4 linked regions of the Homo sapiens genome follow. The protein of the gene in region 1 purifies or fractionates together with the protein of each later gene. This does not show direct contact. Each region holds a gene or a part of one and is shown on either strand. Other genes may lie near its edges. The genes, in order: TMEM165, POLD3, ACTG2 and ADPGK.

Region 1 (8,028 bases):
CTCCACTCTGGTCGACAGAGCTAGATTCCATCTCAAAAAAAAAAAAAAAAAAAAAAGACGACTCAGTATACAAATAAAGACTGGAAAGTCCTATATTAAAGGAACTAGTTAAATACTAGTTTATTTTACTTAATCTAGTGAATTTTTAAATATTTTCTTTCTTTCTTTTTTTTTTTTTTTTTTTTTGAGACAGGGTCTGGCTCTGTCAACCAGGCTGGAGTGCAGTGGCACAATCTCAGCTCACCTCAACCTCCACCTCCTGGGCTCAAGCCATCCTCCCACCTCAGCCTTCTGAGTCTGGGACTACAGGTTCCCACCACCATGCCTGGCTAATTTTGTATTTTTTGTAGAGACAGGGTTTTGCCATGTTGCAGAGGCTGGTCTCGAACTCCTGAGTTCATGCAATCTGACCACCTTGGCCTCCCAAAGTGCTGAGATTACGCCCGGCCTAAATATTACTTTCAAATAGAACCATCTTCATGGGTAGCAGTTTATAATACACAAGTAGAATTTGGGAAATGTAGTCCCAGTCTTCCATTCTTCACAGTGGATGCTTCAGCCAGTTTCCTGTCTCTGCACACACACTGCCCGACAGCGGGCTTTCCCTTCTCCTTCAGAGCAGTAGCAGTTCCCTTTCTTCATTCCCACCCATCACAGTGGCAGCCCCCTCTGCCCTCCTGTATTCTGAATCCCACCCTTATAATATGCTTAGATTTTGCCTTTCTCCCAGCCGTTTTGTGAGCATTGTTCGTGTGTACCAATTTTTTCTCATCCTTTAAAAAGAAAAAAAAAAAGCCCCTTTTCTCAATTGTACATCGCAAATCCAACTCTTGCCCTCCTGCAGTGTCAGAGGACTTGGCTGTGATGGGAATAAGCCTTGGCTCTGTTCTCCTTGCATACTTAGCCCATGGGAACCCAGTTTCTGGCCTCACCAGGAATGTTGTTGTGCTTTGAGCTCCCTGTGGCCTTGCATGATGCCTCCGTTGGTCCTTACAGGAGGTGATTGGCTGGCCACCTCACTTGCTTTCTCCTGTGGACCCTTCTTTCTCTGTCCTTCCTTGAATGCTGCCTTTGTCCCTCATGATTATGCTATCAACATTCTTCTCTTTCTGCTTTCTCTGTAACAGGTTTATTGACTCTTTTTTTTGAGAGTCTTGCTCTGTCACCCAGGCTGGAGTACAGTGGCACAATCTTGGCTTGCTGCAACCTCTGCTTCCTGGGTCCAAGCGATTCTTCTGCCTCAGCCTCCCGAGTAGCTAGGATTAGAGACATGTGCCACCAAGTCTGGCTAGTTTTTGTATTTTTAGTAAAGATGGGGTTTCACCATGTTGTCCAGGTTGGTCTCAAACTCCCAACCTCAGGTGATCTGCCTGCCTCGGCCTCCCAAAGTGGTGAGATTACATGTGTGAACCATCCACCCACCCTGATTCAACTGACTCTTAACTTTAAAAATCACATTGGTCTTACCATACATAGTTCATCAATTGTGGGAGAGAAACTTGGGTGTCATGCTTTATTTATTTATTTTTTTTTTGAGATGGAGTCTCACTCTGTCACCCAGGGTGGAGTGCAGTGGCACGATCTCAGCTCACTGCAACCTCAGCCTCCTGGATTCAAGCCAATTCTCCTGCCTCAGCCTGCCCAGTAGTTGGGACTACAGGTGCCTGCCACCACACCCGGCTAATTTTTTGTATTTTTAGTAGAGACAGCATTTCACCATGTTTCAGTCTCCTGACCTCGTGATCCACCCTCCTCGGCCTCCCAAAGTGCTGGCATTACAGGCGTGAGCCACTGCACCCAGCCTATTTTTCTTTTTTTAATAAGAGATGGAGTCTTGCTTTGTCACCCAGGATGGAATTTGTAGCATAGTAGTGTGATCATAACTCACTGTAGCTTCAAACTCAGGCTCAAGTGATCCTCTCACCTCAGCCTCCTGAATAGCTGGAACTACATGCATGAACCACTGCACCATTATTTTATTTTTAAGAGACGGGATCTCGCTGTACTGCTCAGGCTAGCCTTGAACTCCTGGCCTCAAGTGATCCTTCTGCCTTAGCCTCCTGAGTGGCTGGCTCCACTCTGCTTGGCTCTGATATTTTTCCATAAAGCCTATCATTCATTTATCATGGAGGTATGTTAATTTTGCCTTCTTAATTTCTCTCAAATTCACCTGCTCTTTGCCTACAGTCATCTGCCCCGATCTGGGGCAACGCAGTTTCTTCCCAGGGCTGTTGCCATAGCATCGCAGTGGATCACCCTTCCTTCAGTCTTGTTCCCCTCTGGTTCTTTCTCTCCACTAGACTTTAAAAAATTTTTGAGATAGGGTCTTGCTCTGTTGCCCAGGATGGAGAACAATCATAGCTCACTGCAGCCACGACCTCCTGGGCTCAAATGATCCTCCCACCTCAGCCTCCCGAGTAGCTGGGACCACTTGTGCTTGCTAGGATGCCTGGCTAATTTTTAATTTTTTTGTAGAGACAAGGTCTCACTGTGTTGCCTAGGCTAGTCTCAAACTGCCAGGCTCAAGCAATCCTCTTGCTTCAGCCTCCCAAAGTGTTGGGATTACAGGCATGAGCCACTGCACCTGGCCTAGCGGATTTCTGAAGCATTAATCTGTTCTGTTACTTTCCAGCTAAAAACCAACAAGTGTCTGAGGACACAGTTTAAACTCCAAGATGATAGGGTCCTCCCTCACCTGGACTCCCACCTACCCTCATGACCTCCTTTTGTGAAATGCTGAAGGGCTCTGCAGCTGGTTGTCTGGTACTGCTGGCCTTTGCTTTCTATTTAGCATGTTCCTTCTCCCACAAAACAAAATCACATTCTCACTATGCCCTGTTCATTCTTCAGGACTATCTTCTGGGAAACTTTTACTACATACCCCTCTCCCCCTAATCTGAGTGTCTGCTTTGCTCAGGTAACATGTGTTCACTGGATAAATCCTTGATTCCTGGCACTGAGGCAGGGTTTCTGTTCCCAGGAAGCAGAGGCATACTATTCTGTGAAGGATTGACTGAGTTTCTCCTAATACCAAGCAGTATCTGAGGGAACAGATGTCTAGCTTAAAATCCTCCCTAGCACTTGTCATAGCAGTGCTACGTATTGCCTGTGAAGGAAGTTTAATAACTGCTGAAAGGTTCGATTAGCTTTATTTCATCAGGATTTGTTTGACTTTACAAATTGATTTGGGTTATTTCAACTTTTAGGTCTAGTCTTAAGTATAACTGGTACATATTCCTTCAAGCAGCCATTACACCTCTCATAAATTTATTATACACCTGCATTTTTATAACTATTATGCTTTTTAATTGTTGGCCACCATTTTTAGTGCTTCTGAATTGTTATGGTTCTCAAGCAGCAGTTGTCACCTTGGTTTTGAATTAATGCTGTGACGCTTGCTTCCAGGACCCCTATGGTGTAGCCGTGGGTGGAACTGTGGGGCACTGCCTGTGCACGGGATTGGCAGTAATTGGAGGAAGAATGATAGCACAGAAAATCTCTGTCAGAACTGGTAAGTCTTGAAAATTACAAATCAGATAACATTTTAGAATCACTGAGAGATTAAAGGGTGTTAGCTTTGATTATTTAAATTTCTGCTGCTGAAGTATACTTGGTTTTTCTAATTACCTACCATCTCTTATAGAGGTATTAATCCTGGTATTGCAAATACGGACTTTTTTCACCTGTGTAGAAGTTAGCAAAATACAAAGTCATTTTTATCGAATTCATAGTAGCTTCTTGTTAACATATTATCTTAGTAAAACAATTGTCATTTGGAAGTATGAGAAGTTTTTGGCTCTAAAAATGTGTCTTACAAGACTGGAATCATGTGGAGACCATATGTACTGATTCTGCTGAATATGTCCTGTGAAGCCACAGTTAGGTCTAGAGATGGAAGAATCGTCTCTTTGCTAGTCAGAAGACCTGAACATTTTCTTTTATAACTGGATTTTAAGATGAGTTATAGTTCTACTGTTGCTTGCCAGCACTGTCTGGATTTAATACAATCCTGTCATTTCTCAAAACAGTGCTGGAGAAAACCTGATTCTTAGTGTTCACAGTCAAGCATGTTAAGTATTGTTCCTTGTTATGTAAAAGGGGTTGAAGTGATTCTAATTTGTTTTCAAGGTTAGTTTAATAGATTGGAAGAATAATTGGCCGCCTCATCGGCTCCCTTTTCATTTTGTACAGTATCAAGGTATAGGAATTTTACTGTATTTGACTTTTTTTCTCTCTCTTCCAGTGACAATCATAGGAGGCATCGTTTTTTTGGCGTTTGCATTTTCTGCACTATTTATAAGCCCTGATTCTGGTTTTTAACAAGCTGTTTGTTCATCTATATTTAGTTTAAAATAGGTAGTATTATCTTTCTGTACATAGTGTACATTACAACTAAAAGTGATGGAAAAATACTGTATTTTGTAGCACTGATTTTGTGAGTTTGACCCATTATTATGTCTGAGATATAATCATTGATTCTATTTGTAACAAGGAGTTTTAAAAGAAACCTGACTTCTAAGTGTGGGTTTTTCTTCTCTCCAACATAATTATGTTAATATGGTCCTCATTTTTCTTTTGGTGCAGAACCGTTGTGCAGTGGGGTCTACCATGCAATTTTCTTTCAGCACTGACCCCTTTTTAAGGAATACAAATTTTCTCCTTCATCACTTAGGTGTTTTAAGATGTTTACCTTAAAGTTTTTCTTGGGGAAAGAATGAATTAATTTCTATTTCTTAAAACATTTCCCTGAGCCAGTAAACAGTAGTTTAATCATTGGTCTTTTCAAAACTAGGTGTTTAAAAAAAGAGACATATATGATATTGCTGTTATATCAATAACATGGCACAACAAGAACTGTCTGCCAGGTCATTCTTCCTCTTTTTTTTTTAATTGGGTAGGACACCCAATATAAAAACAGTCAATATTTGACAATGTGGAATTACCAAATTAAAAGAGAATACTATGAATGTATTCATATTTTTTCTATATTGAATAAACAATGTAACATAGATAACAATATAAATAAAAGTGGTATGACCAGTGCTTGTTTTTCCTTGTGTGTCATATAAAATTATCAGTATTGATAGGCCAATTTCTAAAGCTGATGTAAAAACACTAACATATTAAATATTTGAGATATGCCTAAAGTAGCTAAACAGGAGCCAGGCATTGTTCGAAAGCATTGTCACCCTTACAGTTCTGTGAGGTAGTAGGTACTAATATAAGGTTAAAAAAGAAAAAAACTAACTCACCCAAGGTTACATGGTAGAGTCACACCAGGCGGTTTAATTCCAGAGCCTAATGTCATTCATTATGCTAAGACTACCTCATTTTTTCATGGCAACTTCAGTCGTCACCCTCGTTTGAGTATATTTTGATTTGACTACTACTTCACCCAAGTAGCATAACAGCTGCTTTCTCTCAGCCTTTTATATTCTAGAATCATATGCAGTAACATTCCCATTAATAGCCTCACTAAATTGAAGGACAATTCTACAGAAACATCCATGTTATTTGTGTGAGGTATAATAGGAGACCCAGAGCAATTCAGGTTTATGAGCTACTACAAAGGTCCACAATGTAGTCTGCAATTTGAAGAGATTGTGAAAGAACCCAGTTAATCATCCAGCACTGTAGGATGCAGCAATTGTCCTACATGGTAACTCTGTGAGGAAGATGATAGCTACTACTGTGGAGATCTTAAGAGGAGTTTTCAGCTTAAATGCCAAGTTAGAAGTAGCACATGTTGGTAAAAAAGGTCATATTTGTAGTTTTCTGCTATAGGAAGTATCAAAGGGTAGAAAACAATGTCTGTGGATTAAGATAAACTCTGTGGTTAGACAGTCTATATTGCCTTAGATTGTTTGTTTGTTATAAAGAAAGAGTGAGGAATTCTCACTAGTATTTTTTTTTTTTTTTTTGAGAGAGTCTCACTCTGTCGCCCAGGCTGGAGTGCAGTGGTGTGATCTTGGCTCACTGCAACCTCCACCGCCCGGGTTCAAGCAGTTCTCCTGCCTCAGCCTCCCGAGTAGCTGGGATTACAGGCGTGCACTACCACGCCTGGCTAATTTTTTGTATTTTTAGTAGAGATGATGGAGTTTCGCCATGCTGGCCAGGCTGGTCTCGAACTCCTGACCTTATGATCCGCCCACCTCAGCCTCCCAAAGCGCTGGGATTACAGGCGTGAGCCACCATGCTTGGCCTACTAATACGTTTTGTTTGTTTGGAGACAATCTATCTCACTCTGTCACCTGGGCTGGAATGCAGTGGCGCAATCTCGGCTCACTGCAACCTCTGCCTCCTGAGTTCAAGCAGTTCTCCTGCCTCAGCCTCCCAAGTTGCAGGGATTATAGGTGCCCGCCACCACGCCTGGCTAATTTTTTTGTATTTTCAGTAGAGACAGGGTTTTACCATGTTGGCCAGGCTGGTCTTGAACTCATGACCTTAGGTGATCCACCCACCTCAGCCTCCCAAAGTGCTAGGATTACAGGCGTGAGCCACCGCACCCAACCGTTTTTTCTAATAACAACAGAAAAGACAATTCCTCGTAGGGAGTAGCTGGCACCATCATCGTGTAACCTCAGTTCAGGTAGCTTGGTCCCATTACTAGCTTCATATGCGAATAAGAACAGCATCGCATTCTGAGGCACCACAATCTTGTAGCAGGACATAATTCCTCTGAGAATTTTTGGTAAGTCAGACCTAAGCTATAAGGTAAAAATCGCTACTGCAATAGGCTCCATTGTTGAATAAAAGAAAGGGAAATGTCATTGATAGTGATCTTAAAATATTTAATAGTCTTTCTTTAAAATCCAAAATGTGATTCTTACAAGTTATGTGCCACATGAAGCAGGTGTTATTTTTTGAGAAATGCAGGTGATAACTGAAAAACATAGCACTGAGGTATTTTTTATTTTTAAAATTGAAGGAAACAAAGTCTGGATCTAATTATTTTTACATTTACAAAAACTGCTACTGCTTGGCTCTTTTGCTATAAGTTTAGGTTCTGAATACATGACAAGAGTATGGGAAAGAGCAGAATAATAGTACACGCAGTTTTAAAAGCTATGCACATCATAACCTGGAATAATGATTACACAGCAAGAGGCCTGAGTGGAGGTAGGCTAACAACACATTTTGACTTTCTCCTCAAAGGATAGCTTTGAAAAACAAGTGTAACCAATTGTTACACCAAATTAAAATGGCAATATTAAATCGGTAACAAAACGATCCACATTTTATACAATATTGTATTTCCAAACATACATAGGTCATGAAAATCAGAGAACCTAATATAGCACCGTTGAAACCATTCATTATCCTTCATGTGTGTATGCAATTCAGAATTTCGGCAGAAGACAACAAATGGAAAATGCCTTTCGTTTCTATAAATCATTTTGGATTTCAATTAAATCTTTGCCTTAGTAAAGGGTATTCTTATCTCAAGATCAATTAGCCGTTTTTAGCTCCACCGTTTTGGAAGTAAAAATGATGAGCTACATCTACTTTTTAATTTAAAACCAAGAACCAAGCAGTAAGGACAGCAATGTCAAGAATATCACATTGAGAACCACACAGAACATTATAAAGAATTTGGTGCATGTTTTAACAACTACCAACTGATGTTAACAATGAAAAATTTACAAAGGTAAAACTTTTTTTTTTTTTTTGCACTGACTGGTTTCAATACAGCACTGAATTTAACTCATCTTTGGGCTTCAATCTTTACATAGAGTGAATATGAAAATGCCATACTGAGGCCTTCCCCAACTTAAACCATAGTAAAGATTTCAAAATCATTCCAGTATGGTCTGAATGGTAACTGTTCTGGCTGACACATCTTTTTTTTTTTTTTTTTTTTTAAAAAGACATTTCCTGGCCAATTTTTTTGCTTGAAGATGATTGTCTGGTTATACAAGACATCAATCTGAAGGTAACAACTTATTTTAACTTAACTACTGGCATAACCATTGCCAGCAGTGAACTTGCACTAGTCCAAGCCAACTCAAAAACACACATTATAAACAT
Region 2 (8,168 bases), on another chromosome or scaffold:
GACATTTATTGATTCCATATCTTGGCTGTTGTAAATAGTGCTGCAATAAACATGTGAGTGCAAATATCTCTGACATACTGATTTCATTTCCTTTGGATGTATATCCGTAGTGGGACTGCTGGATCATACAGTAGCTCTATTTTTGATATTTTGAGGAACCTCCATACCGTTTTACATAATGGCTGTATTAATTTACATTCCCACCAACAATGTATAAGCATTCTGTTTTCTCCATACCCTTGTTGTGTTTTCTTTTTGATGTGTTGCTTGTGCTTCTGACATAATATCTAAGAAGGCTTTGCCTAACCCAGGGTTATGAAGATTTACTCCTGTGCTTTTTTCTAAGATTTTTTAGTTTTTGCACTTATATTTAATTCTGTAATCCACTTAGAGTTTAAAAAAATCATGGTTATCACTATGTTTAAGTTTTCTACAGATCGTGTGCTTGTTAGCATCATTATTATTATTGTTTTGAGACAGGGTTTCACCCTGTTGCCCAGATGGAAATGCAGTGGCGCAATTTTGGCTCACTGCAACTTCAGCCTCCCAGGCTCAAGTGATTCTCCCTCCTCAGCCTCCCGACTAGCTGGAACTACAGGCGCATGCCACCACACTTGGTTACTTTTTGTATTTTTTGTAGAGACGGGGTTTTGCTGTGTTGTGCAGGCTGGTCTCGAACTCCCAGGCTGAAGCCATCCTCCTGCCTTGTCCTCCAAAGTGCTGGGATTGCAGGCATAAGCCACTGCACCTGGCCATGTACTTGTTAACATTAGAAATGCTTCAGTCGGGTGGCTGTGGTGGCTCAGTTGTATTAGTCCCAACACTTGAGGAGGCTGAGGTAGGAGGATTGCTTGAGCCCAGGAGTTCAAGACAAGCCTGGGCAACATAGTGAGACCCACATCTTTATAAAAAGTTTTTTTAAAACATGAGCCTGGTGTGGTGGCATGCACCTGCAGTCTTAGCTACTCAGAAGGCTGAGGCAGGAGAATTGTCTGAGCCCGGGAGTTCAAGGCTGCAGTGAGCTATGATCACACCTGGGTGACAGAGCAAGAACCTATCTCTAAAAGAGAAAGAGAGGAGAGAGAAAAAAGGGAGGAAAGAAAGAAAAAGAAAAAAATGCTTTAGTTCCTACAGTAAGACTATACTAAAGCTTTCAGATTAGGTGTTAGTTCAAGCTAATTTTTAAATGAATCACTGAAATGTATAAATATTGACTATATCTTCTAGGAATCACTTGGAGTTGATTTTTTGTGTATGGTGTAAGGAAAGGGTCCAGCATCATTTTTTTGCACATGGGTATACGGTTATCCCAGCATTTTATAATTCATATTATTGTCTTGGCATTTTCTTGCTAATTATATGTCTTTCCCCACTAGAATATAAACTCTATGAAGGCAGGAAACTTGTCAGGTTCATCACTGTTCTGATTACTATTGCTGTGTCAGAAATCACCCCAAAATGTAGTGCCTGGAAACATCATTTTATTATGCGCATAGATTCTTTTGCTTTGGAATTTGGATAGGGCACAGTGGGAATGGCTTATGTCTGTTCCATGATGTCTGGCATCCCCGCTGGAAAGTCTCAATAACTGGAACCTGGTCATCTCTAGGCATCTTTATGCACATGTCTGGCTGTTGATTCTGGCCATCTGTTGGGCCTTTAGCTGGGGCAGTGGACTAGAGTGCTTGCATGTGGTCTATCTGTATGGCCTGGGCTTTCTCACAGCCTGGTGTCTCCAGGTAGTCGGACTTCTTACATAGAAGCTCAGGGCTCCAAAAGCTTGTGTTCCAGCACAATGTAGAGCCAATTGCCTTTTCTGACTAGCCTCAGAAGTCAAGCAGTGAATAACTGGTCATACCAGATTCAAGAAGTGGGCTCTACTTCTCAATGAGAGAATGTAGAAGAGCATATGGAATGGAAGATGCTGTCTCAGCCATCTTTGGAAAATATAACATGCCACAATTATTCTGTCTTCAGTGTCAGGCACATAATGAATGCCAATACATACTGAATGAATACCAAGCACTATGGTTTATGTTTGTTTTGAGATAGAGTCTCACTGTATCACCCAGGCTGGAGTGCAGTAGTTCAAACATGGCTTCCTTTAGCCATGACCTCCTAGGCTTAAGGGATACTCCCACCTCAGTCTCCTGAGAGTAGCTGGGACCACAGGTACATGCCACCATGCTAGCTGATTTTTTTATTTCGTAGAGTTGGGATCTTGCTGTGTTGACCAGGCTGGTCTTGAACGTCTGGACTCAAGCAGTCCTCCTGCCTCAGCCTCCCAAAGTGCTGAGATTATAGGCATGAGCCACCATGCTCGGCCTCACTATAGTATTTTCACAAACATTTCTCTCAAGTAATTTTTTTTTTTTTTTTTGACGGAGTCTCGCTCTGTTGCCTAGGCCGGAGTGCAGTGGCGGAACTCAGCTCACTGCAACCTCCACCTTCCAGGTTCAAACGATTCTCCTGCTTCAGCCTCCTGAATAGTGGGGATTACAGCACCTGCCACCACGCCTGGCTAATTTTTGTATTTTTAGTAGAGACAGGGTTTCACGATCTTGGCCAGGCTGGTCTTGAACCCCTGACCTCGCAATCTGCCCACCTCGGCCTCCCAAAGTGCTGGGAGTACAGGCTTGAGCCACCGTGCCTGGCCTCATACTGTTTTTTTTTAGCATTATTTCAGGCTATGTCATACAACAGTAAACCTGACAGACAGGGTCCCTCCCCTGGTTGATTTAAACAAGATAATTTCAGACTGTGAAAATGCTGTGAAATAATTAAGTTGGGTTAGAGAAAGCGGTATGGGCAATACACTGTACTCATCCTGGGGAACATTATGGGTGGAACTGATCAGGAGGGAAGATTAATGAATTAAAATGGGAAGCTATAATTAATCATGTGTAGGAAGTGTATCTTGTAAGAAGTCATATATGTTGTTATTATTATTATTTTTTTTTTTTTTGAGACAGCTCTGTTGCCCAGGCTGGAGTACAATGGTGCAATCTCGGCTCACTGCAACCTCCGCCTTTAGAATTCAAGCAATTCTCCTGCCTCAGCCTCCCGAGTAGCTGGGACTACAGGCACATGCCACCACGCCTGGCTAACTTCTTGTATGTTTAGTAGAGATGGGGTTTCACCATGCTGGCCAGCTGGTCTTGAACTCCTGACCTCGTGATCCGCCTGCCTCGGCCTCCTAACATGCTGGGATTACAGGCATGAGCCACTGTGCCCAGCCTGTTGTCATTCTTATTTAAGAATATTTTATATTTTGTTTATTAAAAAATATTTGGCTTAGGCTGGGCGCGGTGACTAATGCCTGTAATCCTAGCACTTTGGGAGGCCGAGGAGGGCAGATTGCCTGAGCTCAGGAGTTTGAGACCAGGCTCAAGCTATCCTCCTGCTTCTGCCTCCCTGAGAGCTGGGATTACAGGCGTGAGCCACCACACCTGGCGCTACTGAAATACAAAAATACTAAAATACAAAAAATTAGCCAGCGTGTGCCTGTAGTCCCAGCTACTTGGGAGGCTGAGGCAGGAAAATCACTTGAACCTAGGAGGCAGACATGGCAGTGAGCTGAGATCGCGCCACTGCACTCCAGCCTGGCGACAGAGCGATACTCTATCTCCAAAAAAACAGAAAAGTTTGGCTTAAATTAGATAAAACATGTTTTAAAGACTCAAAAAGTAGGCAGGAATTCTTTCCTTTTTTTTTTTTTTTTTTTTTTTTGAGATAGGATTTTGCTCTTGTTGTCCAGGCTGGAGTGTGATGGCACGATCCCAGCTCACTGCAACCTCTGTCTCCCAGGTTCAAGCGATTCTCCTGCTTCAGCCTCCCGAGTAACTGGGATTACGGGCATGCGCCACCATGTGCCCGGCTAATTTTGTATTTTTAATAGAGACGAGGTTTCTCTATGTTGGTTAGGCTGGTCTCAAACTCTCAACCTCAGGTGATCTGCCTGCCTTGGCCTCCCAAAGTGCTGGGATTACAGGTGTGAGCCACCGCACCCAGCCACAAGAATTGTTTTTTAAAATAAGAGTTTGCTTTGCATTTTCTGTTAATATAAGAGAGAAGAACTGGGGTCAATTTGGGGAGACAAGTGCATAGAGGACAATGACTGATGATATGGGCAGGACTATTAGTTGTGGATAAAAGATAGTGCATTTGGCCAGCAAGCTTGCAAGCATTTTGGGCATGGTACCTGCCTATCATGTCTTCCTTTAGCATGGTCCAAACTAGCATCAATAAACCAAAATGTTTGTGGATCTGTTAGCTCATTTATCCTTCTAACACAATTGTTGTAATGGAAAGAAACATTAGAGGGCAAAGAGGAGGAATCAGCAAAAATCCTGACTAGGGCACCTTTTTGTACTCAAGGTGTTAACAGTCTAGAGGGGATGCGTCATATGTAAAATAAATAGTTAGAAGGCAGGGTGATATGTGCTGTAATAATAGATATGGGATAAAATTTGTTAGAGCTTGGATGGCAGAAGCTCATTGTCTAGGCATGATGGCTCACTCCTGTAATCCTAGCATTTTGAGAGGCCAAGGCAGGAGGATCACTTGAGCGCAGGGGTTCGAGGTCAGGCTGGGAGATATAACAAAAGCCTGTTTCTACCAGGAAGAAAAAATAATAACCAGGCATGGTAGCATGCACCTGTGGTCCTGTTTACTTAGGAGGCTGAGGAAGGAGGATGGCTTGAGCCCAGGAATTCAAGGTTATAGAGAGCTGCGCCACTGCACTTCAGCCTGGGCGACAGAGTGAGACTCTATCTCTTAAAAAAAAGATGTGCCCTGGTGACCTGATGGTGTTGGGGAAGGGTTCATACTTCATAGAGGAGGTGACAACTGAGCTGCTGTCTTGATGAGAAATTAGGTAGTTGAGGCCTGAGAAGAGCCTTCTAGGCAGAAGGAAGGGCATATACAAAGGAATAAAGAGAATTGTAGAATGTTTCATTAAGGATGAAGATAGTGTAGGTATGATGGGGAATGGTCAGAGATACAGAGCCCAGAACAAGAAGGGTCTTACCTGTCATTGCTAGAGATTTGAAGTTGATCCTTAGGGGATGAGAAGCTACTGAAAGCTTTGTTACACTTTTTTTTTTCTCCTCCCTTTTTGTGGAACATGGGGTCTCGCTATATTGCCCAGTCAGGTCTTGAACTCCTGTGCTCAAGCTATCCTCCTGCTTCTGCCTCCCTGAGAGCTGGGATTACAGGCGTGAGCCACCACACCTGGCGCTACTGAAAGCTTTATAACAAGGAATTATGTTTCAGACAAGACTCTCTAGCAACCTTTTCAACATCAACAGTGACTAATAGGCATTGCAAATTTAATATGCCCCCAAACCTAACTCCTGACTTCTCCCCTCAACACCTGCTTTTCCTGCTTTTCCCCCATCTCAGTGAATTACAGCTTCCTTCTTTGGGTTGCCTAGTCCAGTCATTTTTGACTCTTCTTTCTCTTACACTTCAACACAGTATATCAGCAAATCCTGTTGTTTCTCACTTTAAAATATACCCAGAATTCATCCACTAATTACTACCTGCACTGCTACTGCCCCAAACTGAGCTACCAGTCATCTCTAGGCTGGGTTATTGCAATAGCCTAACTGGTCTTGCTTCCTCCCTTGCCCCTCTACAGTATATCATCCACATAACCTTCTCAGATCCTTCTGAAAGGTGAGATCACATTACCTCTGCTCTCAACTTTCTAATGGCTTCTTAAAGTCCTGTGGTAGCCACAAAGCCCTATGTGCCTGGCACTCTGCCCTCTCTCCCCTACTACCGTCCTTATTCCACTACAGCACACTGGCCTTTCTGTTCCTTGGATCTTGCTGACCTTCCTGCCTCAGAACCTTGGTATTTGCTGGACTCTCTGCCTAGAACATTGTTTCCCAAGATATCCACCTTGCTGGCTCCCTCCCTCCCTGCAGGGCTCTGCTAATGAGGCCTTCCCTAATCACCTTATATAAAATAGCAAAACTTCTCAGGCACCCTCTGTCCTCCTTAACTTACTTAACTTTGTTTCCATAGACTTACTGTCATCTGAGATTATATATTATATGTTTATTGTGTGTCTCCTTTCTAGAATGTAAGCTCTAAGAGTGGACTTTGCTTTATTCACTGTTCTGTCCCTAAGGCGTAGAACATAAAGTAACCACTTGGTAAAGTTTTGTTGATTGAATGACTTGATTTGCATTTTTTAAACTTCACTCTGGCAGCATCATGGATAATGAAGGTGAGGTGGGGAGGAGAAGAGGAATTGATACTTGGAATTGAAATAGTCTAGTCAAGAGATTTGGAGGGCATGGAGTCAAGAATTACTTGGGAAGGAGAGCTGATGAGACTTGGCAACTCATTGGATAGGAAGAAGTGAAGTATAATGACTCCCAGATTTCTGGCTTGCGTGGTTTCAGCAGATGATGTTGTTGTCAGAGATGGATGAAATAAACCGAGGAAAATATGTAGTAGGGTGACTAGCCACCCTGGGTTTGCCCAGGATGGTTGGTTTTGTCACTGAAAGTTCCACATCCCAAGAAACCCCTCAGACCCAGGCAGACAGGAATGGTCAGTCACTCTAATACATAGAGTGAAAAAATAGCTAAAGACAGAATACCAACAGTTAAGGAAAGGGAGGAGGTAGAGAAGTCTCTTCAGAAAGTAAAGCAGAAGCAGTGAGAGGGGTAGCAGAAGACTCAGTGGGGCATGGTTTTATGGAAGCTGAGAGAGCAGGCTCTTCAAGAAGAGAGTGAACAGCAATGTAGGTTGAGCTTCTCTGGGGATTTTTAAATTTCTAGCTATGCTTGGCAGAAGTATATTATAGACAGATTGTAAATGTTTCTCAAAATAAAAGACATGTCTCTTTGTTGTTTTTAAACTAGATTATTGAAGGGAGCCAACTTCTGATACTTGCTGGATCATAGAGTAAAAATGAATTTAGAGATTTTACTAAAAGCAACATTATTTCTGCATTTAGTATTTGGCTATCTCAGGTTAATGAATTATTCTGAATACTGGGCAATGTGAGTAAGCTGTTACATTCTGCAATTCTGAACCGGCATTAAATCTGAGTAATCATAAAATTGGAATTTCAGAGCTGGACATTTGTGATCATATACTTAGTAGTTCTTAATGTTTTGGAGTAATTCACTCTTCAGAATCCATTGAAAACCCTCACACATCTCCCAAAAAAGCACATAAACATTTGCTGAAACTTTAGGATTGGAGGGTTATAGATGGCCACCTGAATCCCAGGTTAAAAGAATCACTAATCTAATATAACCCTCCTGTTTACGCCTTGGGATATTAAGAGGCCTAGACAAATTAATTAACTTATCCAGAGCTTAGACAGTTACCAAACTACTTCTTGATTCAGTGTTCTATTTATTATGTATCATTGCCACTGTTTTAATGCAGGTTCAGTCCCTCTTGGTCTATTATTAATCTTATTTCAGTTAATGTACTGATCACTGTGCCAGCTCCAAACACATGGACTCTACTCCCCATGTCCTGTCTGAAGTCCATCCTTTTTTTTTTTCAACTGTCCATAGGCCAAGCAAAAATGCTACTGTTCAGAAAATTTGATGGACTACCAGATTTCATTTATCTTTTAAGTCATTAATTAAGAGTTGATCATGTAAAAACTCTTACTGATGTCTTACTTGTGCCTTCTTTTCTTTGGAATAGGATGCTGTATGATTATGTTGAAAGGAAACGAAAAGAAAATTCAGGAGCCCAACTGCATGTTACCTACTTGGTGTCTGGCAGTCTCATTCAGAATGGACATTCCGTAAGTTCTCAGAGCCTTGTAATGAGCTTAAATGTGTTTGTGTTATGAAGAGTGTTATAACATAGTTCAGGGGAGAGAAAAAAATCAAGATTCTGTGTTATAGTAGTTTTAAAGAGCTACTTGATGGTGATGATTATTTTGGATTTTTAGATTAAATCTAAAACTGAGAAGTTTGGGTAATATCTTGGCTGTGATGCAGAGACTGTATCATTATTATGCAATAAGATGTTAGGAGACTGCTTCTGTTATTCCCTATATCTCTTTTTTTCCTCTTGAAGGTATATGGAGAACAATGGTGTTTAATTTTCCACCTGTTCAAATTTCAAACCATGAATACAAGTGTTCAAAAATTATAATTTTTTTAACTGAACTTCTTTTA
Region 3 (5,272 bases), on another chromosome or scaffold:
GCCTCCCAAAGTACTGGGATTACAGGCGTGAGCCACCACGCCTGGCCTCACGTCTACTTTAGGTTCAGTCATAGGATGATGATAGACTTGCCGCGAAGAGGGTCAAGCGTCACTCCATTCAATCTTAATTCTTCCACTCCTCTTTCTAAAGAGGGAGTCTCAAGTCTTGATTCCCATGCAGGACTTTGCATGAGATTTCTGACAAAGCCTTAGGCCTTCCTGGGGGCTTTGCAGGACATATTTCTGGTCTAGACTCAGATGTTTGATCTTACAGAACCTAGAGAGGCTCCCACCTAAAAAATGCCGATTGCCCAGGTGGGCCACATGACACCTTCCCCTTAGAAATTCGGGCCTCACTTATTCAATTTGTCCTCAAACCAAAGGTGCCCCTAGGTAATGAAATGCATCAGCAGATCTTCACTACCATTCAGCCTGTGGAAACTAGCCCTAGTCCTGGTGTGGACGTGGACAGAGGCAGCTGGTCTCTGGGGAAGGAGGGACTGCTTCCATGACTATCTGGTCTTATCCAGAGGCCTAGCCCCAGCTTAAGGCCTCTCAGTCTATCTCAGGAGAGTTTAAAGACACAGAGTCACAGAATTCTCATTGGTCCTGAGAACTTCTTGTCCTAAACCAGATTGGTTCTGAGCTCCAGTCAGAATCAGAAAAGGGGCTGGATACCTGTGGTCACAAAGGAATAGCCTCTCTCTGTGAGGATCTTCATGAGGTAGTCCGTGAGGTCACGGCCAGCCAAGTCCAGGCGCATGATGGCATGGGGCAGGGCATAGCCTTCATAGATGGGGACATTGTGGGTGACGCCATCACCTGAATCCAGGACGATGCCTGTGGACAGAGAGGATCAGGCTTATAAAATTCTCATTCTTGCCTTTCATCAGTCTCTTTCTAGGACTGTTACCAATGAGCTCTGACTACCATATTTTCCTTTACCAGTTAAGAATATTCACCCATCACAAGAATCATCAATCATATTTTTTATTTTTTATGTATGTCACTTTTTTCCCCCCAGTGAGACTGTAGGCCTCTGGAGGGCAAGTAAAATGTGTCCTTTTTTTGTATTCCTTGAAACACATTACTGGTAATGCATACTTGTCAATTTGCATTAAGTCTACATTGCATATTCTTTTTTTTTTTTTTTTGGAGACAGAGTTTTGCTCTTGTTGCCCAGGCTGGAGTGCAATGGCATGATCTCGGCTCACTGAAACCTCTGTCTCCTACGTTCAAGTGATTCTCCTGCCTCAGCCTCCTGAGTAGCTGGGATTACAGGTGCCTGCCACCACGCCCGGCTAATTTTTTGTATTTTTAGTAGATGTGGGGTTTCACTATGTTGGCCAGGCTGGTCTTGAACTCCTGACCTCAGGCAATTCACCTGCCTCGGCCTCCCAAAGTGCTGGGATTACAGGCATGTGCCACTGCGTCCAGCCTCATATTTCTTAATCTAACAGCCACATCATAACGGATGAGAAAACATTACAATATCACCACCATTTTTTAATATTGTCCAGGATGTTCTAGCCAATTGCAGTGAAACAGAAAATAGAAATAGGAGGTGTGACTACCAAAATTGTCATTATTTGCAGATAATGTGGTTTTATACAGAAGACCCAACAGAATCAATTAAGAAACCATTAGACCTAGTTAGATGGTTCAGTAAGGGCCAGATGCAAAATAAATGTCCAGAAAGCAGCAACTTACTCTTGTGTAAGGACCTGAATCATGGCATATTGTATAATAAAAATGAGAGGCAACCTAAAGCTCCAGCAATAGAGAAATGGTAAAATAAATACATAATGAAACCATCATACAACGACTACCACGTGGCTATTAAACATGATGTTTGCAACGAAGTGCAAGGTTGGGCGCGGTGGCTCATGCCTGTAATGCCAGCACTTTGGGAGGCCAAGGGGGGCAGATCACTTGAGGTCAGGAGTTCAAGACCAGCTGGCCAACATGGTGAAACCCCATTGCTACTAAAAATACAAAAATTAGCCGGGTGCAGAGGCAGGTGCATGTAATTCCAGCTATTCGGGAGACTGAGGCAGGAGAATCGCTTGAACCCGGGAGGTGGAGGTTGTGGTGTGCTGAGATCACATCATTGCATTCCAGTCTTGGCAACAGAGCGAAACTGCATCTCAAAATGAAAACAAAAACAAAAACCAAAGTGCAAAGCACAGGATACGACACTGTATATGCCATGCATTTCTCCATCATTGTCCTTATCACATGCAGTGAAATTATCTTTTACTTTTGTCTATCTCCCACTAAACTGTTAGCTCCATAATGACAAAGTCTGTCTTATTTGTCAGTGTGTGCCCATGGCCTGGTACCATGTTTGGCACATTGTAGGGAGTAATGGAAAATATATGATGGATGAATGAATGGATAAATCAGTGAATAAATGATTAATGAACGTTTAAACAAATGTTTATGGAAGCTGTCAAGTTCCTATTAAAGACCATTTTATTTTGAGATTTCCTCTGTTACGCTGAGCACACTTCTATACCAAGGCCACATATAGTCATGTCCACATAATGACATTTTGGTCAACTTCGGACCACATACACAATGGTGGTGCCATAATATTATAAGGAAGCTGAAAAATTCTTATTGCCTAGTGACATCATAGCTGACATCACGTCATAGGGCAACGCTTTATTCACGTGTTTGTGGTGATGCTGGTGTAAACAAACCTACTGTGCTGCCAGCTGTATAAAAGTACAGCACATACATTATGTACAACATACTTGAAAATGATAATAAACAACTATGGTACTAGTACTGGCTTATGTATTTCTTATACTGTCTTTTATTTTTTTATTTTTTTTTTGAGTGTCACCCAGGCTGGAGTGCAGTGGTGAGATCTCAGCTCACTGCAGCCTCTGCCTCCTGGGCTCCAGCAATTCTCCAGCTTCAGCCTACCGAGTAGCTGGGACTACAGGCGTGAGCTACCAATGCCCGGCTAACTTTTTGTATTTTTTGTAGAGATAGGTTGTAGCCATGTTGCCCAGGCTGGTCTTGAACTCCTGAGCTCAAAGAGATCCACCCACCTCGGCCTCCCAAAGTGCTGGGATTACAGGCATAAGCCACTGCACCCAGCTCTTATACTATGTTTTTAATCATTATTTTAAAGTGTACTCCTTCTACTTATTAAATAAAAAGTTGACTGTAAAACAGCCTTAGGCAGGTCCTTCCGGAGATATTCCAGAAGGAGGTATTGTTATCATAGGAGATGACAGCTCCATGCATGTTATTAACCCTGAAGACCTTCCAGTGGGCCAAGATGTGGAGATGAAATACAGTGGTATTGATGATCCTGAACCTGTGTAGGCCGAGGCTAATGTGTATATTTTAGTTTTTATCAAAAAAGCTCTAAAAGTAAAAAATAAAATAAAATAAATTTAATAGAAAAAAGCTTGTAGAATAAAGGATATAAATGAAACTATTTTTGGCTGGGGGTGATGATCACACCTGTAATCCCAGTACTTTGGGAGGCTGAGGTGGGCAGATCACTTGAGATCAGGAGTTCGAGACCAGCCTGGCCAACATGAGATGGATCTGGAGAGGAGAATGGTCAGCCCTGGAAATTTCTGATCGACATTTAAAGGGTGTACTCCTTTTTTTTCTCTACTAAATAAAGACAAAAATAAGCCAGGCATGGTGGCACGCTCCTGTAGTCCCAGCTACTTGGGAGTTTGAGGCATGAGAATCACTTGAACCTAGGAGGCGGAGGTTGCAGTGAGCTGAGATCGCACTACTGCACTCCAGCCTGGGTGACAGAGTGAGACTTCATCTCAAAAAAAAAAAAAAAAAAAAGTCATGGGAGGCTGAGGCAGGAGAATCGTTTGAACGTGGGAGACAGAGGTTGCAATGAGCCGAGATCACGCTACTGCACTCCAGCCTGGTGACAGAGCAAGGCTCCGTCTCAAAAAAAAAAAAAAAAAAAAGTCGAAAAAAGATGTTTTTCTATTACTGTCACTACAAAAAAAGTAAAAATGGCTTTAAAAATTAAAAAGTTTATAAGGTAAAAAACATTACAGTAAGCTAAGGTTAATTTATTATTGAAGAAAGAATAATATATATATATACATATTTTTTGAGACGGAGTCTCGCTCTGTCACACAGGCTGGAGGGCAGTGGCGTGATCTTGGCTCACTGCAACCTCTGCCTCCCAGGTTCAAGTGACTCTTCTGCCTCAGCCTCCCAAGTAGCTGGGATTACAGGTGCCTGACACCACGTCCAACTAATTTTTGTATTTTTAGTAGAGACGGGGTTTCACCGTGTTGGCCAGGCTGGTCTGGAACTCCTGACCTCAGGTGATCCGCCCACCTCAGCCTCACAAAGTGCTGGGATTTCAGGTGTGAGCCACTGTGCCTGGCCAAGAATAATATTTTTATAAATGTAGTACAGCCGATGTGTACAGTGTTTATAGTCTACAGTAGTACACAGTAACATTTTAGGTCTTCACATTTTCTCACTACTCACTCACTAACCCACCCAGAGCAACTTCTAGTCTTGCAAGCTCCATTCATGTAAGTGCCCTACACAGGTGTACCATTTTTTATCTTTGATATTATATTTTCACTGTAACTTTTCTATGTTTCAATATGTTTAGCTATACAAATACCTAACCATTCTGTTACAGTTCCCTACAGTATTAATTATAGTTAAATGCTATACTGTCTGTAGCCTGGAAGCAATAGGCCACGCCATACAGCCGGGGCATGTAGTAGGCTACAGCGTCTAGGTTTGTGCAAGTACACTCTCTGATGTTCCCACAGTGACAAAGTCACCTAATGACACACATTTCTCGGAACGTATCCCTGTCATTAAGCAATGTGTAACTGCACTTACATTTCCACCACCACAGGTTCTACTCTTTCTGCTTCATGAAGCAGAAACATTCCAGTATTGTTGGAATGTGTGTATGTGTAGAAGCTCCTGGAATTATTACTGTGAGGGAAACAGTTCTTGCTGGATGTTTTTTCCAACTATACCAGCTAGGCTCACATCTGGCATTCCACATGGGCATTCTCACCTATTATCCCTAAGAAAGATTTTGCCTGGACTTCAGCTGTCCATTTGATTCTTCTGAGCAGGAGCCTCTGCCAGACCCCAGCTTTTCCCTACCTCCCCTGAAGTCAGAAAAGGAATGGATTACAGGATTACTCACCTGTCGTGCGGCCAGAGGCATAGAGGGAGAGCACAGCTTGAATGGCGACGTACATGGCAGGGACATTGAAGGTTTCAAACATGATCT
Region 4 (8,954 bases), on another chromosome or scaffold:
ATATGACCCAGAAATGTTACTTTGTTTCTACCCTGAAGAAATGGCTATACACGTGTACCACAGCATATACATAGCAACACTGTATGTAATAGTAAAAAAACTGGGAAAACTCCAAATCGTCTATTCATAGTACAATAGATAAATTTTAGTATTTTCATTCAGTGGGATATTACATAGATGCTAAGCCGTCAAAAAATAGAAAAGGCTACTGCATAGTGACCTATGCAGAAATGGCTGTCTTCCTTATAGTAAGAGAGTGACAGACCAGCAAGAAAGACTAAAAAGAAAATTAAATATAGCTCTCAGAACCAACCATAGCAACAGCAGGGAATGTTTTGAATTCCAGCATGTAGCAGACACTGTGCTAGACTGTCTTAAGATAACTCTACCTCCCACAACCATTCTGCAAAGTAGGAATTATTTTGCATATAAGGAAACTGAAGAACAGAAAAGTTAAATGACTTACCTGAGGGCACACAGATAGCAGGTGACAGAGTGAAGATTTGCAGCCAGGAATCAAATCCCACCTTCTTTCCATTGAAGTATGAACTGTTGATTGCAGCAACCATTCACCACCCCTCCCTTCATCCAGAACCCTGATTTTGTTAAGATGTACTGCCTCTTCCGTGCTGTCCACCCTAGGGATGGCAGAGCAAAAGACAGAACAAGCATGGGCCCCTGAGGACTCTCTCTGGCAATGCTGCCAGGCCATCCCAGTTAGATGTTTTTGCTTCCTTTTATTTATTTTTCCTTTATTTTAGTTTTAGGCCCAGTGGTTGTAGAACTGCTAGGGTTCTTGAATCAAAAAGAAAATGTAGTTAGAAGGCAAACTTCCCATTTCCTTCCAAACCATTGCAAGTAATACTGAAACCCAAACCAGATCACTACAGCAGATGCTACAAGGGCTACAACAGGACTGGTTTACGCAGCCTGCAGAAGAGAACCCAAGCAGGAAGGCCTGTGAGTGTAAAGGGCTCCAGCAGGCAGCCTGGTAGCAGTGTTCCGGGAAGCCTGAGATGGCTAAGAGCACTGTGAGGGTGGAGGCCTCTGCTTTATCCTGCCCCGATTCATTCGCCCTATGAAGCTCATAGGTCCCTGCCAGACAGAAGCCCACACAGTCCTGTGCCTCCTGCCTTTCTAGGCTCAGCGCTTCTTCCTGGTCCAAAGCAGTTAATTTCCAAAGTGAAAATTCCGGGCCACTATGTTGTCACATCCCCTCAAGCTACAACCCGGTTCCCAGTCTGTGTAGGAAGTTCTATTACTATCAAGAAACTCTCATGTTCTTCTTACTGCTTTGCTGCTGACGTTCCTCTCATCTGGCTCCTGTGCCTCAACACCCCTGCCTCTCCCCTGCACTGGCCAGAGGCAGTCCATCCTCTGAGCACTTCTAGTCCCCTCCTGACCTCACATTAGTGAGGAGGATGTCTGATTGCCAAGGGCTATGGCTACAGACACAAAGCTTTCTCTTTTCGGGGGCTGGGATCCTTTATTCCATCTCTTCAATCTCTTTGGAGTTTTCTGTAATCTTCAAAATTGTGCTCTGACTCTGGCCTTTGGGCATGGCCTGTGGTGGGCTGTGTCCCTGGCATCAACAAAGGCTTTGACACAGTGTGGCCTTCAAAGAGCAGCTTGGATGAAACCCCAGAGGCCTGGAGCTGCAAGGAAAGTGGGTTAGCCCAGCTTTCACAGGGACCATTTGGTCCCACTTTAGTTTCTGCTCCACGTGGGAACAAATGTGCCCCTTAAGGCCTTTCAGATTGCGGGGGTGACGCTGATGGGTATTTATGTTAAAGCCAAAACCTTCAGCTAATTTGGAAGCTGACAGGATTCTGCTAATTCTTTGTGTTCATACAGGATCTGCTCCCTGGCCTTCCAGGTCAGGATCTTGGGTGGGGCACCTGGAGCCTCCATTTGCCTCTGAATTTTCTAGAACCAAATTGCTTTTCTTCTCTCATTTCAAGGTCCTAGGAGAGAGAACCAATAGGAAAGGCCATGTCTGGAAGCAATTTGGGTGGGGGCGGGGGGTGTCTTGAGGCCTGCCCAGCCCAGCCCTTTCCTCTTTGTTCAGCCTAGGCAAAGGAGCCACAGCTGCCCACTCAGAGCTGTTTTAATTGTCCCCAGAAACCTAACTTCTAGAAAAACAATTGGCTTGCAAAGGATTCCAGACTCTCTGAACAGATAGATGATCAGAATCTTTTCTGATTTTCGTTAAGGAAATATTTCAAGAGGGACTGTGGCACCAAGACAGTGAATGCCTGCCCCTGAGCCCCGATGAGAAGGAATTAAGGGCCCTGTGACTCTGTATGTGACCAGAAGCCACATCAGGCTCCGCCAGGCCTGGCAACTGTCCCTGGTGTTCTGTTCTTCACCTCCTGCGGCTCCTGACTCTTCAGTTCTCAGTTGGAATTGAGGTCAGCTCTCTCGTTTCCTTGTCTGGCCCCCTTCACCACCCACAATGCAAACCCACACTGAGTGACTAACCAGCAAGAGGCCCACAGCAGGTCCCATAGCAACCAGAGGGGGCCAAGCTTGCTACCACAGCCCACAACATGCCAACACCCCATTTAGACTTTTACATGAGAAATAAACATCCACTTTGTTCAACTGCTGTTGTTTTGTCTCTGTGACTAAATCAACAATTCTGGCAAATCTAGAAAGAAGCAGAAGAATTAGGTGCAAAGTGCTGGAAGTTTAGCAGCCTCTCGTGGGAGCAAGAAAGCCCCAGGCAGGTTTCTGTCCACATCACTTTAATGTGGAGCACTCTCCTAGTCCTCTAGATCTGTCTGTTCTATCACCTTCCCACAGTTCAGCTTCCTGTGCTCCCCAAAACTTCACCTTGGAAACATATTTAACTGGTTCTGACCTTTAGCCTTGTGTGACTTTGTGGGTCCACAGCCAATATCAAATAACTACAGACAACAGAAACTTGGTTAAAATTCTCAATAGAGGGAAATGATCGCTGGACAGTCAGCAGACTCGCTGTTTTCAGGTCAGCTGCTGGCTCAGTCCCCTCTGGGTGCCAGGGAAACCTGACAGCTGAGGGTTGTGAGAAGAAGCAGTTTCTCTAGGAACTGACTGACATGTCTCCCTAAGGAGAGAGAAGTGACAGGCAACTCTAGGGAAGATGGCTTTCATGGCTTCATAAAGATCTGACTGGCTCTTTGGCTTCTTTTCCAAGGTAGCCCAAATCTGTTCCTGTGTGAATATCTTTGTCGAAAGGGATGGCATGGTCAGGTAGGCTGGGTAGGATGAACTGCGGGAAGGTAGATGACCAGGATGGGGAAGTTCTGATGAGGTGGGGCTGAGGAGAATGAAGACTAATGCCCAAGATCAAAGTTAGGGAAATAAAGTTTCGCTGCCAAGTCCAAAGGTCAGGGTCACAGTGGAAAACTGGACACAAAGCCAAGGTCAGGAGCCGAGAGAATTGGAAAAGTGGAAACAAACCAGGGAACAAGACTAGGCCGGGCATTGTGGCTGATGAGAATGAGCTGGTACCCAGCCTAGCTTCACTGTCTCTCAACCTAGCCTCATGCACAGAAAAGTATCAGCGAAGAGAGGGCTGGGTTTAAGTGATGTCACCAAGGGGGAACAAAAGAAAGCAGCGTTTCTCAACCCAGGTCCATAACTCTCGTGTTGTGCACAAGATTGTGTACATTTTCCAGAGTTTGTTAAAGGGAACAGCGCCCCCAAAAGGGTTAAAGTTTGATTGTGGAATAATCTGGTTATCCAGAAGAGAACGATCTCTGCGGGCTCTCCTGTCTCGACGAAGTCCTTTAGTGGCTGAGGGTCTCGGCCACCTTCCAAAGGGGCGGAATCCCCCTGCCTCGCGTACCCCAGGGGTCTCGGCAGCGCCGCTATTCTGTGAGCCTATTCCTCTCAGAAGCGCCGAGCACTAGGCCTGGAAGAGGACAAGTCTAGCAAATGAGGGGACACGGGCGGAGGGAGGGATTAAAAGATGGGGGTGTGATCCGTGCCAATGGGGACACCCACTGGTTCGAATATTAACGCGAGGTTTGTCCGCTTCTTCACAATCTGTCCGTTTCGTTTTACTGCGAAAGCAAATGTGTTCCCATCCCTCTATTTGGGGATACGATTAGAGTTCCGGGAAGGGGGTGCAGCGCCCGGACTGGCACAACCGCCGTTGTCCCACCTCCTCCGGGGCGGCAACACCGCAGTGCCAGGCCTGGGACTGAGGCGTGGGGTCCCCCCTCGCTCCGTCCTGGCGCCGCCCGTCGCCCCGCCCCTTGGGGGGCCCCGTGGCGCACCCTTGTGACGTAGCGCTTGTGTCGACATCGGCGCGCGCCGAGCCCGGAAGAGGCGCGGGCTAGGAAAGGAGTTGGTTCGCGCAGGTGCGGCGCCTGGGTCCCCATGGCGCTGTGGCGCGGCTCCGCGTACGCGGGCTTCCTGGCGCTGGCCGTGGGCTGCGTCTTCCTGCTGGAGCCAGAGCTGCCAGGCTCGGCGCTGCGCTCTCTCTGGAGCTCGCTGTGTCTGGGGCCCGCGCCTGCGCCCCCGGGACCCGTCTCCCCCGAGGGCCGGTTGGCGGCAGCCTGGGACGCGCTTATCGTGCGGCCAGTCCGGCGCTGGCGCCGCGTGGCAGTGGGGTGAGTGCCAACGGGGCCTGGGTCTCTGAGCCTCCGAGGTCGGCCTTGGAGGTCGGGCGGAGCCGCGCAGAAACAGGGCTTCTCAGAGGTCCCCGGGAGGCGCTGCTGTCCGCGCTGGCCCCTTGGCGAGAAGTGTCGGACGTCTGAGTGGAACCCGGTTCGTCACCGCTGCTCTTTCCACTCGGCTGGCCTCTGCGCCTTTCTCTCATCCCGGTAGGACCAGCCCTAACAGCTTCTTGCTAATCCCGCTTTGTCTGACACCTTTCTCCGAGCCTTCTTCCTCGTTCCAACTTTTAGCCCCTTCTCTTCTGGCGACTGTTGTTTTGCAATCAAAGATACTTGACCTTACCCACTATGACAACACTCTTCCTCTTTCTTCTGAACTTCTTGAAGACGCGTGATGTCTGCCTTTACCCACTTTCGAAACGCCGTGTAGTCTAGAAACCACACGACTGTACTGCAACTCCTCTCAGATTTGCCTTTTTGAATCTTCATTATCTACTCTGCAGCCTTCCACGCATTGAACACGCCCTTCTCCGTGAAATTCTTTTCTTCCCCTGACTTCAGTGACACTGCATATTTAAGGTTCTTCCAAATGACACTACCTCCTTTCTTTGTACTTTTCCTTGGGAATGTAATTATTTTCTTTATAGTATTGATACTGTAAACACTAACTTTAGTCCCTGTCTCAGTTCGATTTGACTTTCTTGCCGTAATCTCAGAGTTATGTATAACCACCACATAAAAGCAGGCCCTCTACCATGTAGCTCACTACTTTCTGTGGAGTGTTGGGGCCGGGAGGGGTAAAGTAGAGCAAACTTGGCCTGAAGATTAAATGACATCATTCATGTAATCTCTCTAGCATAGTGCCTGCTTTAAAAAGCATTCGATATTAGCTATAATTTTGGGGTTTTTTTTTTTTTTTTTTTTTGGACACAGGGTCTCTCTCTCTGTCGCCTAGGCTGGAGTGCAGTGGTGCAATCACTGCTCACTGCAGCCTCGAACTCCCGAGCTCAAGAGATCCTTCTGCCTCAGCCTCTGGAGTAGCTGGGACGACAGGCAAGCACCACCACGCCCAGCCAATTTTTTATTTATTTTATTTTTTTTAGTAGAGTCGAGGTCTTGCTATATTGCCCAGGCTGGTCTCGAACTCCTGAGCTCAAGCCAGCCTCCCATCTTGGCCTCCCAAAGTGCTGGGATTAAATTGTCCTTCCTTGCTTTATGCGCGTTCATTCAGCAGATATTCACCAACTACATGGTTAGTGTCAGGTCTGTGCTAGGTTCTTAAGATACAGAGATGGGTGAAGCAAGGCCCCTGTCTCACTTGTTGGAAACATATTATTGTATCAGTCATTTGGGCTGCTAGAACAGAATACCACAAATTAGGTGGATTAAACAACAAATCTGTTTTCTCGTGGATCTGGAGGCTGATAGTCCAAGATCAAGGTGTTGGCAGGATTGGCTTCCGATGTGGCCTCTCTTCCTAGCTTGCAGCCAGCTGGCTTTTCAGTTAGTCTGCGCATGTACACTCCTGGTGCCTCTTATTCTTCTTATGTGGACACTAGGTCCTTTTGGAATAGGGCTCACCCGTATGACCTTATTTAACCTTAACTACTTCCTTAAAGGCCCTACGTCCAAATATAGTCACATTGGGAATTAGGGTTTCAGCATATGAATTGGTGGGGGGTGGACAATTCAATCCATAACAATTATGGTTAGAAGAGGAACAACCCACGAGGACCAGGCAGAAGCCTTAATGCCTTTTACGACCTTACCTTAGAAGCACATAGGAACTCTTCTACCAGAGTCACAGGTCCACCTGGTTTTAAGGGAGGGGACATAGAACAAACCTTGATGGGAGGAGCATCAGTGTCACATTGTGAAAAGAACATTTGGAATGGGGCATCTTATTGCCACCATCTTGGAAAATATATTTTACTACAGTGACTTTCATAGGACAGACACTAAATAAATGAGATTTCTTCAAGCCAAAGTGGGAACAGGTCCACCTAGGCAAGAGAACCAAATGTGAAAAAGTACATGGTTTGTTTGGGAACAGGTCGGCCTTGTTTTGGAGCGAGAATCCTATGGTAGAGGGTTGTAAAGAGATGATGCTGAGAACGAAGGGTTGGACCAGATTGTGAAGGGCCTTTTATGGGGAAGCCATAAAGGTTTGTAAGTAGTTAACTGATGACAAGTTCTTTGTTGAGAATTGGTGGGAATGTGAAGGGTGGATTTTGAGCAGTGGTTCTAAACTGTTTCACTGCTTCTCATCATTTATTACCCAAAGAGGATTTTTAGCCCAAAGATAGGGGGATATAGGAGGGATGAGGGGGAGCAGGTGTAGTACTTGTATCAGAATCTCATTTTGAGGTTGTAGTTTGACTTCTCTAGAGACACACTCGTATTCACACTCTCTGTCACACAGACACACTCAAAATGCCATTTAATGTGATTCATAAGGAGGAATATCTTGACATCCTGACACTGGTTTAAGAGGCCATTGTAGGGTTTGTGTAAAGGGAGAAAGGAGCCCGAACCAAACTCGGCAATGATGTAGAAGAGGTGAGATTTGAGAGATAACCTGAATAATAGTTTGGATGTGGTGGAGTAAAGAAAGGCAGTCAAAAACGACAGGTTTTTAATATTGGATATCTTGTTTAGTTTTTGTTTTCTGTTTGAGACAGCATCTCACTCTGTCACCCAGGCTGGCGTGTGCAGTGGCATGTTCAAGCTCACTGTGGCCTTGACCTGTCATGCTCAGTGTCCCGAGTAGCTGGAACTACAGGCATGTACCACCACACCCGGCTAATTTTTATATTCTTGGTAGGGACAGGATTTGCCAAGTTGCTCAGGCTGGTCTTCAACTACTGGGATCAGGCCTTGGCCTCCCATCTTGGCCTCTGAAAGTGCTGGAATTACAGCTGTGATTCCACACCCAGCCCAGTATTAAATATCTTATAACAACTAATATGGTTAGGCTTTGTGTCCCCACTCAAATCTCATCTTGAATTGTAATCCCCATAAGCTAATCAAGGGAGAGACCAGGTGGAGGTAATTGAATCATGGGGGCGGTTCCCCCATTCTGTTCTCCTGATAGTGAGTTCGTTCTCATGAGATCCTTTGGTTTTATAAGGGGCTCTTCCCTGCTATTCACTCGGCACGGCTCCTTCCTGACACCTTAAGAAGAAGGTGCCTTGCTTCCCCTTCACCTTCCACCATGAATGTAAGTTTCCTGAGGCCTTCCCAGCCATGCTGAACTGTAAGTCAATTAAACCTCTTTCCTTTATAAATTACCCAGTCCCGGGCAATTCATTATAGCATTATGAAAATTGACTAATGCAACAACTTTATGAGGGAGGCAGATAACAGATATTGTCACCGAGTCTTCTCACATTGATTTATTTGCCCAAGATCTTGTAGCTATCAAGTGCCAGAGGAGCAATTGAAGCCTGGTCTTTCCCATTTCTGGTTCCTTGTTGATGCCATGTTGTTGCCATTAAGAGAGATTTAAGAAAAACAAGTTTCAGAAGATAAATTGGATTTCAGAGGAGGAGAAATGTACATACATTGTTATGGGATTTCAGATGAAGCTTCTCTGTCAGCTACTGAAAATGAGAAGCTGGTTTTTAGGAATATATTGAGAAACAGGATTGCAAATTTTGGAGACACTGGCACTTAGGTTGAAGCCAGAGACTGGATAGGATCACCCAGGAAGAGAAGAGGAGAAGGTAAAAATGGTAAAGGTGGAATTCTGGGAGGCACTAGCCCTTAAATGCTAGTGCATTAAGGGGCTGGTGAAAAGGGGTCAAAGAAGTAAAGGATAGGAGGAGTTTTAAGGCGTTTCTAGGAAACTTCCCCTGCTTCTAAATCAGACTCTGGTACCTATTCATTGGTTTAAAAATGATGAAACCCGGCAGGCATGGTGGCTCACGCCTGTAATCCCAGCACTTTGGGAGGCTGAGGTGGGTGGATCACCTGAGGTCAGGAGTTCGAGACCAGCTTGACCAACATGGAGAAACCCCATCTCTACTAAAAATAAAAAAATTAGGCGTGGTGATGCATTTCTGTAATCCCAGCTTCTCAGGAGGCTGAGGCAGGAGAATCGCTTCAACCCAGGAGGCAGAGGTTGCGGTGAGCCGAGATCGCGCCGTTGCATTCCAGCCTGGGCAACAAGAGTGAGACTCTATCTCAAAAAAAAAAAAAAAAAAAAACCCTCATGCTAATATTTATTGCCCCTGGAACTGGCTTCACCCTGAACCTTGAAACATATCTTGGTCTTCTCCCCTGTATGAATTCTCCATTCTAGCTAGATAATTCTTTATTGTATCCAAACACAAGGTTAATCCCTTC

The links.
Region 2: the proteins of TMEM165 (region 1) and POLD3 purify together in Homo sapiens (tandem affinity purification; one large-scale study listed by IntAct). This does not show direct contact.
Region 3: the proteins of TMEM165 (region 1) and ACTG2 purify together in Homo sapiens (affinity purification with mass spectrometry; one large-scale study listed by BioGRID and IntAct). This does not show direct contact.
Region 4: the proteins of TMEM165 (region 1) and ADPGK purify together in Homo sapiens (affinity purification with mass spectrometry; one large-scale study listed by BioGRID and IntAct). This does not show direct contact.

Annotation. Positions count from the first base shown.
Region 1 is NC_000004.12:55,421,133-55,429,160, forward strand, and holds the end of TMEM165 (putative divalent cation/proton antiporter TMEM165 precursor), read left to right. Parts: intron 1-3,405; coding exon 3,406-3,511; intron 3,512-4,243; coding exon 4,244-4,320; 3' UTR 4,321-5,043; downstream 5,044-8,028. UniProt on the Homo sapiens protein: Putative divalent cation:proton antiporter that exchanges calcium or manganese ions for protons across the Golgi membrane.
Region 2 is NC_000011.10:74,597,006-74,605,173, forward strand, and holds part of POLD3 (DNA polymerase delta subunit 3), read left to right. Parts: intron 1-7,686; coding exon 7,687-7,789; intron 7,790-8,168. UniProt on the Homo sapiens protein: Accessory component of both the DNA polymerase delta complex and the DNA polymerase zeta complex.
Region 3 is NC_000002.12:73,909,053-73,914,324, reverse strand, and holds part of ACTG2 (actin, gamma-enteric smooth muscle isoform 1 precursor), read right to left. Parts: intron 5,271-5,272; coding exon 5,186-5,270; intron 841-5,185; coding exon 679-840; intron 1-678. UniProt on the Homo sapiens protein: Actins are highly conserved proteins that are involved in various types of cell motility and are ubiquitously expressed in all eukaryotic cells.
Region 4 is NC_000015.10:72,779,106-72,788,059, reverse strand, and holds the start of ADPGK (ADP-dependent glucokinase isoform 4 precursor), read left to right. Parts: upstream 1-4,301; 5' UTR 4,302-4,368; coding exon 4,369-4,601; exon of another isoform or gene 4,602-5,225; intron 5,226-7,845; exon of another isoform or gene 7,846-7,863; intron 7,864-8,954. UniProt on the Homo sapiens protein: Catalyzes the phosphorylation of D-glucose to D-glucose 6-phosphate using ADP as the phosphate donor. GDP and CDP can replace ADP, but with reduced efficiency.